2 separate regions of the Homo sapiens genome follow, and region 2 is reported to be linked to region 1. The links are microRNA targets in miRTarBase. Many come from high-throughput screens and were not tested one by one. Region 1 holds a microRNA gene; the other region holds the end of a gene's coding sequence.

Region 1 (4,394 bases):
GATTGGAGGGCATATAGGGCCAATGCGGGTGGCATGGCTGCATCTCACATCCTTGGGCCCTTCATTCAGTTAGTCAACAAGTGTTTGAATTGAAGTGAGAACCCATTTGTTTACAATGTTACGCTGGACCTACAACCCTTCTTTGTTAGAGTCTTTATCTCTTTAGCTATTCATTCTGGATTCCAAAAAGAATTATGCAGGCCTAGTCCCAGACACTGTGCTAGTGCCGGGGGTGCAGGGATGGGCAAGAGAGTCAGGCTCTGTCCTTGTGGAGCTGTGAAAGTTGGAAACCTGGGAGTCTCCTTTGCCTCTGCTACCTTTCCACTAGCACATCCAGTTATCTTCTGTCTCCCTGCCACTGGCCTTGACCACTCTCCTCTAAAGCTTCTAGAACAGTGCTTATCACGTACGGTAGACGAACAGTACATGTTGGTCTATCATAGTCCCCACCACACCCCTAAGCCATGATTTACATCCAAGTCTGACCCCTATCTTGCTCAGAAGTCTCCAATGAATCCCCCTTTTCTATGGTGTAAGATGGAAATGGCCTTGAATGGCACATAGGCCATTCAGGATTTGGTCCCTGCCTATCTGTCCAACCTCATCTCCTGCATTAGTCAGGCTTCTCCAGATAAACAGAACCGATAGGATATGCATGTATGTTGAAGCCTTGGGGGCACTCTGCTTTACCCAAAGTTCAACAAGTTAAATGTTAATCTTATCTGAAAACACCTTCCAAGTGAACACGTGAAATTAACCATCACACCCCCTTTGCCCTGTATGTTCTGGCAATATTGCACCTCTTTTTAGCTTCCAAAAATGGTCCACTATCCTGCCTCTGGGCCTTTGCACACACTGTTCCTTTTGCCAGACTTATCTTTCCCCATTCTTGTCCACTCAACAGACACCAATTCTCACACTAATCCAGCCTCAGCTGCAAAGCACTCTCTCTCAGTGACCCCTTGGACCCTCACAGAGAGATTTGGGTGCTCTGTGTTGTTATTCCCATTCTATTTTGCACTTAGTTTTGTCACATCATTTATCATGTTAATGTTGGCTGGCATATCTCCCTTCCCACTGGGAAGACAAGGGCTTATCTTTTTGTTTTTGTCTAAGTCAAGCCTTATGTTGGGTATTGGGGAAAATCTCTTGGGCATTACAACCTTAACCAATGATCTTATTATAATCATCCTACCACCTCATTTTAATTACTTATAAAGTAGAGGATTGAACTGATAGAGCAGTAATCACCAATTGCTTAACTTCATAGTCGTTCTCCCTCTACTTCATGTCATAGAGCTCTTAGCTGAGCCCATGGCCTCCTGGAAGTAAAACTACATTTTCCAGCAGGCTGTGCAGCTGTATGTGGCCATGTGACTGTACATCATGGCTAGTGGGATGTGAATGGGTCCTCAGCACCTTCTGGGAGACTTTCTTTTCTGTCATTTCCTCCAGCCAGCTGCCTGGAATCATAAGCCTACTATCTTGGACCATGAAGATGTGAAGCAGAGGCCAGAAGTGGTCTGCAAAGAGATGACTGTGAATCCAAGATCCACATCAGCTCTGTGCTGCCTACATCTGACTTCTCCGGGAACAAAAAGAACAAACACCACTACTCTGTTTAAGCCACCATGTTTAGAATCTTTGTTGCTTGCAATTGAGCCTAATCATAAGGATATATCTTGAGAAGTGCTTTCCAAATTCTCTGAGGGAAGTCAGGAGACATCATGAGCAAAGAGAGTTTAAAGAGGCTGAGTTAGCCCTCCTCACTCACTGCCATCCCAACCCAATTGTGTCTGTGCCACTTCTGTGTATTTTACCTGTTGACTTAGAGTTTGTTTGAAGATGGAAGGACTAGAAGCTCTCCCAAGTCCCATCCATTTCTGACATTCTAAACATCTGTCCATATGTATAACCATTATAAAAGGAAAGAATTCCATAAAGAGGAGGCGGATCTCCCTATCATGTGCACATAGGCAAACATGGGCATCGATGGTCATAGCCTTCATTCCTGATGGTGGAATTTCAGGCATGGTGGCAGGTGCTGGAGAAGATCTCTGTCTCCTTTGTCTATGTCTCAGGCCTGCCTGAGTGGCGTCCTCTTATTTCCTGCCCACCCTGTGCTACCCATCCCAGAGCTGGGTAGGTAGCAGGTATTTAGGGGATGTTGACTGGATATGCTGAATGAACATGGGCTGAATGAGCCCATGCTGGCATCTCCATACTAACTTTTGTACATTAAGTGCTCTCACTGGCTGTCTCAAATGAGCTGTGGGTTTGTTTCTTGGCAGTTCTGTAGTTGTGGCCTTATTTCTTCCCATTCTTACGCCAGGAGTCTTTGTGGCAGGCTGGAAATTCTGCCCAGCACCAAGCCCATAGCAGAGACAGCAGACATCGGAAACAGGCTGGACCTGCAGTGGCCGCGCCTGTGTGGTGCATGCGTATGCATTCATGGTTTCTCCTCTTCTGTCTCTCCGGGGCTGGTGTCACTCTGCCCAGGAGTTCACCCAGGCGGCTCAGAAGGGTGGCTGCTGTGGAACGTGATAAATTTAGAGCACCAGGAAGTTGGGAAGCTGCAGCCATCAGCAGCTGAAGCAGACGGGGGCAGAACTGAATGGTCTCTTCTGGGTTTTTAATGAAGCCGCCCTAACTCCCCAGTCCCTGTGGCTTTTATCGGGTGCTATTAGTAACCCTTTTGTACAGATGGTAAAGCAGAAGCACAAAGAGGTTCAGCAGCTTGCGTGTGACCCCTTAGCCTCAAAGTGACTGTCCAGTTCATTTTTCACCCCTACTTATCTGTTGATCCAGCAGGTGTGGAAGTGCTTTGCAAACTGTAGGATGTAATCTATGTGGAAGGAATTGCTGCTGTTAGTGCTCGTCTTTCAGAGAGAGCAGTGGCAGTTGGCACCACCCCTTATAAGCTGAGACCTACTTCATCTTCCTGGGTCCCATTCATGCAGCCAAGATGGAGTGAGTGTGTGAGCAAATGTGCATGTGTGTATAAGCATGTGTGTATACACGCCTGTGTGAGGGTACCCTGCCTGCAGCTTTAGCCGAGGCTGTCATTTCTGATGCAGGAGAACCTGCACTTTGCCCCATCTCCACAGTTCGTTATTTTCCAGCTGGGCGCCTGTCACCAGCACTCGGGAAGCACGTGTCAGCTGGGCCTGAAGGATGGCTTAGCCAGTCGAGGGGCTCTGGCAGGGGTGGGGACCGTGACCTGGGGCCAGGAGTAGGTGGGGCAAGGAAGTCTGCCCAGTTGCCCTAGTGATGTGGGGGTGGCCCCAGGAGACGTGCCTTGCCCCTGCTCCTACCCCGGGGCTCTGCTTCCTGCCTGTCAGGTGAGTATGAGGGAGATGGGCTGATTCGATGGGGGTAGAGAGGCGGGCCACGTGAGCTCTGCCCTGGGGTCAGCCTCCATTCATCACTTTCTCTGACACCTTTCTGCTGCAGCTTCTCTCTTTCGGTGAAAGGGAAGGTAGGAGGAGGGGAAGGTAAGGAGGGGAAACTTCCAGAGCCTTCAGGGCCTGAGGGGTTGGTGACATGGGGATGAGGCTTAGATTTAGGACCAGGGATCTGGGCCAGCCTTAGAAAAATTAGTGAAGGGGCAACACCTGGGCCCAGGAGGCCAAAGACCTGGGTGTCCTAGCAGTGTTGCCTCAGAGTTCTTCACAGTGGTCCTGCAGCCAAAGCCTGAGCTCCAGCCTGGGCGCCCATAAGCTAGGCGCCCATATAAAAGGCACTGGGAAACTTCACCTCTCTGTGCCTTAGTTTCCTCATCTGTAGAAGGGAAATATTAATAGTCTCTGCCTTATAGGGCATTATGAGGGCTAAATGACTTAGAATGGGACTTGGCCTTAGGAGGGATTTGATAAAGGGTAGCTGCTATTATCACTGTTGTTACTTTGGTTGAGGCTGTACCCTTAACCCACCATGGAGACCTTGGTCAAGAGGCTCTCATCTCTGTAGGCCTAACGTTGGCTGCATAAGCTCCCCAAGCCCTCTCAGCCATTGCTGTATGAGGGGGACAGTAATTCCTTCCCATAAGCCCAGCAACAGAGAGGGGTCCTACATAAGGGACAAGTAGGAAGCAAGGGGGCATTGGTGATGCGATGACTTGGAAAGGCCCTTCCACTGCCTGTGGGAAGAGGTGGTCTGCTTTTGGAACTTCCAGCCTTTTTCATGATCCCCCAATACAGCTCCATCTGTAACCTTCTCCTAGAATTTTTCTTATAGCCAGTTGTGAGATTGGGGACCAAGCTGACAAGATAATGCCTTCAGGGTGAGCCTTGTTCTGCACATGGCATTTTCAAGGGAGATCTGGAAGACTGAAAAATCCTTGGAGGCCTGATAGGCTGGCATGCTAACAGTGGCATTCCAGACCTTGTGGTAGG
Region 2 (4,394 bases), not on the chromosome of region 1:
CCATTGGCACCAAGTGTCTCGATGGCTCTCTCTGCTGTCCTTGTAGTAGTGTGGGAGGAGAGAAATCTAGTCCCATGCACAAGCTTTCCAGAAGCTCAGGGTTCCTATCTCAGTATTCCACATTTCATATGAGTACATCTCATCTTCCCAACTAAACTGCAAATCTGTAAGGGTGAGATCATGTTTTTATGATGGCTCCTTTAATCTCCCATAGCTCCCATTCCTCTACATAACACCATAGATGTTCAGCCAGTACTTGTAGAACGGTGAATGAATCGATCAAATGAATGAATAGCAACTCTATCTACAAGGCATGCCAAACAAGCTACCACGAGATTCTGATTTACTCCTTGGCTCTTTGTGCTCTCTGTGGAGCACCATTCACATAGTTACCCTGCAGTCCTGCAACCTCACCCATTCTGTAGCACTTTGAAAGGAGAGAGTTGTAACCTTCATAGTCATTGACCTTTCAGTACCCACTTTTATTACATTTTAAATACACCCTTGAAGCCCTCCCATCTTCAAGGAAAGATCCAGCCTGTTAGCTCTGGGTGTGTAACGTAAGACCTTAGCTGATGTCTTCCTTGCAGGCATACCAAGAATGCCAGTCACCTCTCCAAACCCTCCCCCAAACTAACATGGTCTCCTGAGCCTCGGGTCACGCCTGGGATAGAGCAGAGTTAGCAGCCATATGTTTTCACTTCAACAGTAAATCTAACTTGGAATTTTAAGAACCTATTTTTCCCCTCTAGGAAAAAATACTTGGGATATCACATGAAGAAGTAGACTGAAATATCAGATTTGTCATCAGGAATACTCTTTGTCTACTGTGGTCCTGTGCACGTTGGCCTCAGATGGACTACAGGAGATTACAACGTACAAGGCAGATGGAGCATTGACGTTTTCAAAACCATTATTCCTGTGACTGGAGAGGCATCAGGAGAGGTCTCGTTCGTCTCCAGCTCATAAAATGTAGCAGCATCATCCTTGACAGTGATGTTTTTCAGGCCCTCCATTGAGAACCTGAGGAAATCTGTAAAGATAAGTGGTGATGTTGTTTCAAACGTTCAGAACAGATACCATCATCCTGCCTTTGTTAGCTGCTGTAGGGAAAGTGCGTTACAGATGTCTGCTGACCTCACAAGAGTGAAAAGATAAACTGTGCATGTGTTTCCACTTCCGTTTCTAGTACTATTTATTTTTAAACTACACTTGGGGTGGCCTAATACCTAGGAAGATGTTGCTATTCACGTTAGTAAACAGCCTAAAGAAACTCTTAGGTTTACTGCTACATCCATTTGTTTGGAGAGGTAACTGTTGTCTGTGCCTTTTTGAAAAACTTCCATTTGGTACAAAATTTTTACTCCAACACCCCCTCAACCCTTTTCTCAGGGACCACACCTCTTCTTCCCAAGGTCCCTGGGACTTCCTCATTCTTTGTGGTAGTACAATGATTGGTAGCAGGTAAAATAAATACATAGAAAGACTACTGTCAAAAGAGTGTCTTCTGATTAGTAAGTAATAAGTCTTCTGATTATCAAATGAGTTAATTTACATAAAATGCTCAGAACACTTCTTGGTACTTAATGTTAAGTCTTCACTTATGGTCCCTAATGTGTGCTGCCCTCAGCTAAGCTGCCAATTTCCTCTCCTGTCAACGCAGTCACTGATTGCTTTCCTGAGATTGCGGCTGTTCGGTATAAGGTTTTTTAGAAACATGCTCAATAGTAAGTGTTTAAGACACAAAACAATTTAAAAAATACTATCAAATTATAAGGTCTTACAAATTTCTGGATATGTAGTACCCAGCATATGGCCTGATGTAAAACTGGTGCTTAATAAAACTTTGAAGAACAAACAAGTCAGTAAGTCAGACATACTCTCAGGTTCAAGGGAAAACTGGATCTATCTATTATCAAATGCTTCACTAGCCTACCCATCTCAATAAAATGAGTTATTCTCTTTTGTTTTCTTCTCCCACATGAAAGTCATCACTGTTAGGGATAGAGGAGTCTCCATTTTTTGTTTGTTTGTTTGTTTTGTTTTGTTTTGAGACAGACTCTCGCTCTGTCACCCAGGCTGCAGTGCAGTGGCGTGATCTCGGCTCACTGCAACCTCCGCCTCCTGGGTTCAAGCAATTCTCCTGTCTCAGCCTCCCAGGTAGCTGAGATTACAGGCACCCGCCACCATGCCCGGCTAATTTTTTTTTTTGTATTTTTAGTAGAGACGGGGTTTCACCATGTTAGCCAGGATGGTCTAGATCTCCTGACCTCGTGATCTGCCCGCCTTGGCCTCCCAAAGTGCTGGGATTACAGGCGTGAGCCACCACACCCAGCCAGGAGTCTCCTTTTAGACATGGAGACACTGAAGACCACCTCTTCCTCCATCCACTCTGATCTCGCCATTCCAAACTTTTTGCAGTTCCCCAAAGGTATTATGCAACCTGGCACCTCTGAGCCTTCATAACAGTATCCTCTCTACTTGGAGTGTTCTTGCATGATGGCTTCCTTTCCCCCTGTTTCCACTAAAACAACTAACTCTAGCTCATCTTTCCAAATTTCCTCAGTTTCCTCCAGGACTCATTTGCTAACCCTCCCTTGGCCATCATGTGGCTATATTTGGATGCCTTTTCTCATAAGATGCTCCAAATCACCCTGCATGTAGACATTATGCTTAATATATTGCACCGTAAGATTTGGTTTACCCAGTCTTTCTCAGTGGATTGTAAAGTCGTTTGCAAACAGGTACTATGCCTAATTTAACTTTATATATCTAGTGCCTGGCATAGTTTTGGCACACAGTTGCAGAACCATACCCTCGTCTGACTGATACAGCTTGTAAATCAGTATGACTGGAATATGCCCTAAGATATGTGTACTTACAACAAGCTCTCCATGTGTTTCCAATATCATCTATGGCTTGTGGTCAAGATGAAGTAACTAACGAGATTTAATCTCCTGCTTGAAACAACTAAAAAAAAAAAAAGACACTATAGATGAGAATGATTTTCAAGGCATTGGACATTAGGTAATTTTTTTTTTTTTTTGTATTTTTAGTAGAGACGGGGTTTCACTGTGTTAGCCAGGATGGTCTCGATCTCCTGACCTCGTGATCTGCCTGCCTCAGCCTCCCAAAGTGCTGGGATTACAGGCGTGAGCCACCGCGTCTGGCTAGGAGTCTCCTTTTAGAGAACTGGTCCCTGAGAGATGAGACTCTAAGTGAGCCCTATGTTTGCCCTAGAGTACTGCATGCAAAGAGTTTCTAGGTCATGCTGGAGAGAGGGGAACCCACGCAGAGTTCACCAGCTCCCTGAGTAGAGAGGATAGAGCTAGGAGTCCAGAAAGATCAGAGCAGCTGAAGTTTGCAAGTCTGATAAAGGATGAAAGAGAGAGGCACACAAAGCTCCAGAGACCTGCAGATATTTCCCCTTAGGTATTCAGATGAATACTGATCAAAACATGTGCATGAAGAAATTACCCAAGGCATGGGGAAGAACCACCTGAAAATATTAAAGGGAACGCTCTCCAAAGCCTACACAAGGCCATGAATACTGCCTATTTTGGCAATAGGTAGAATCCACAAAACAATTTTGTCTCAGAAGTGGCAAAAATTAGCCCTAGACTAAGCACTCTCTGGTTCTGCACAACCTAAAGATTAAGAGCAAAAACTTAAAGGATTAAACTGTTACCAAATAACTGAGCTGTGTTCTAGAACAAACGCAAGGATATCTATAGAATAATCAAAATATCCAGCATCCAACAAGGTAATATTCACAATGTCTAGCTTCTGATAAAAAATTATAAGGCATGCAAAAAAGCAGCAAAATGCAATCCATCATGAGAAGAAAAATCAGGAAAGCTAGAATGTTACAGATGATAGAATTGTTAGACATTAGAACTATTATAACTGTATTCCACATGTTCAATAAGCCAGAAGAAATATAACATGCAAAGTACACATAGAACTTATAAGTATGACTCAAACCAAAGTTCTAGAGATGAAATCTATAACATCTGAGATGAAAAACATGCTGGATTGGATTAATAGCAGATTAGACATCATAGAAGAATGGATAGGTAAACTTGAAGACATAGCAATAGATCCAAAATAAAAAACAGAAAAATAAGATTGAGGGAAAAAACAGCAATAGCGAATTGTGGAATGACTTCTAATGAATGGCCTATATATATAGGTATAATTGAAGTGAAGATTTTCCAAATTTGATGAAAACTATAAACCCACAGAACCAAGAAATTCTACAAATGCCAAGCACCAAAAACAGGGACAGGGAGAAAACTATGCCAAGGCACACCATAAATTGCTCAAAACCAGTGATAAAGAAAAAAAAAAGTCTTCCAAGCAAGCAGAGAAAAAGGCATATTATATGCAGAGAA

Evidence for each region. The annotated mature microRNA hsa-miR-4527 reads UGGUCUGCAAAGAGAUGACUGU and lies in region 1 at 1,520-1,541, shown strand. An mRNA with a match to its seed (bases 2 to 7 or 8) in the 3' UTR can be bound and repressed. Matches are read on the target gene's strand: a 7mer-m8 pairs with bases 2 to 8, a 7mer-A1 pairs with bases 2 to 7 and ends in A, and an 8mer does both.
Region 2: the mRNA of BCL2L14 is a reported target of hsa-miR-4527. The part of its 3' UTR that is shown has no 7-base or 8-base seed match.

Annotation. Positions count from the first base shown.
Region 1 is chr18:47,378,984-47,383,377 of GRCh38, forward strand. It overlaps MIR4527 (microRNA 4527), which reads left to right and starts at 1,513; the gene lies at 1,513-1,582. The region is part of intron 1 of MIR4527HG (MIR4527 host gene); the gene reads left to right.
Region 2 is chr12:12,098,198-12,102,591 of GRCh38, forward strand. BCL2L14 (BCL2 like 14) reads left to right here. Exons shown (of 6, transcript NM_138723.2): 6 at 753-1,498. The coding sequence ends at 791. Among named protein-coding and RNA genes, the nearest start is that of MIR1244-4, 12 kb to the right of the region's middle.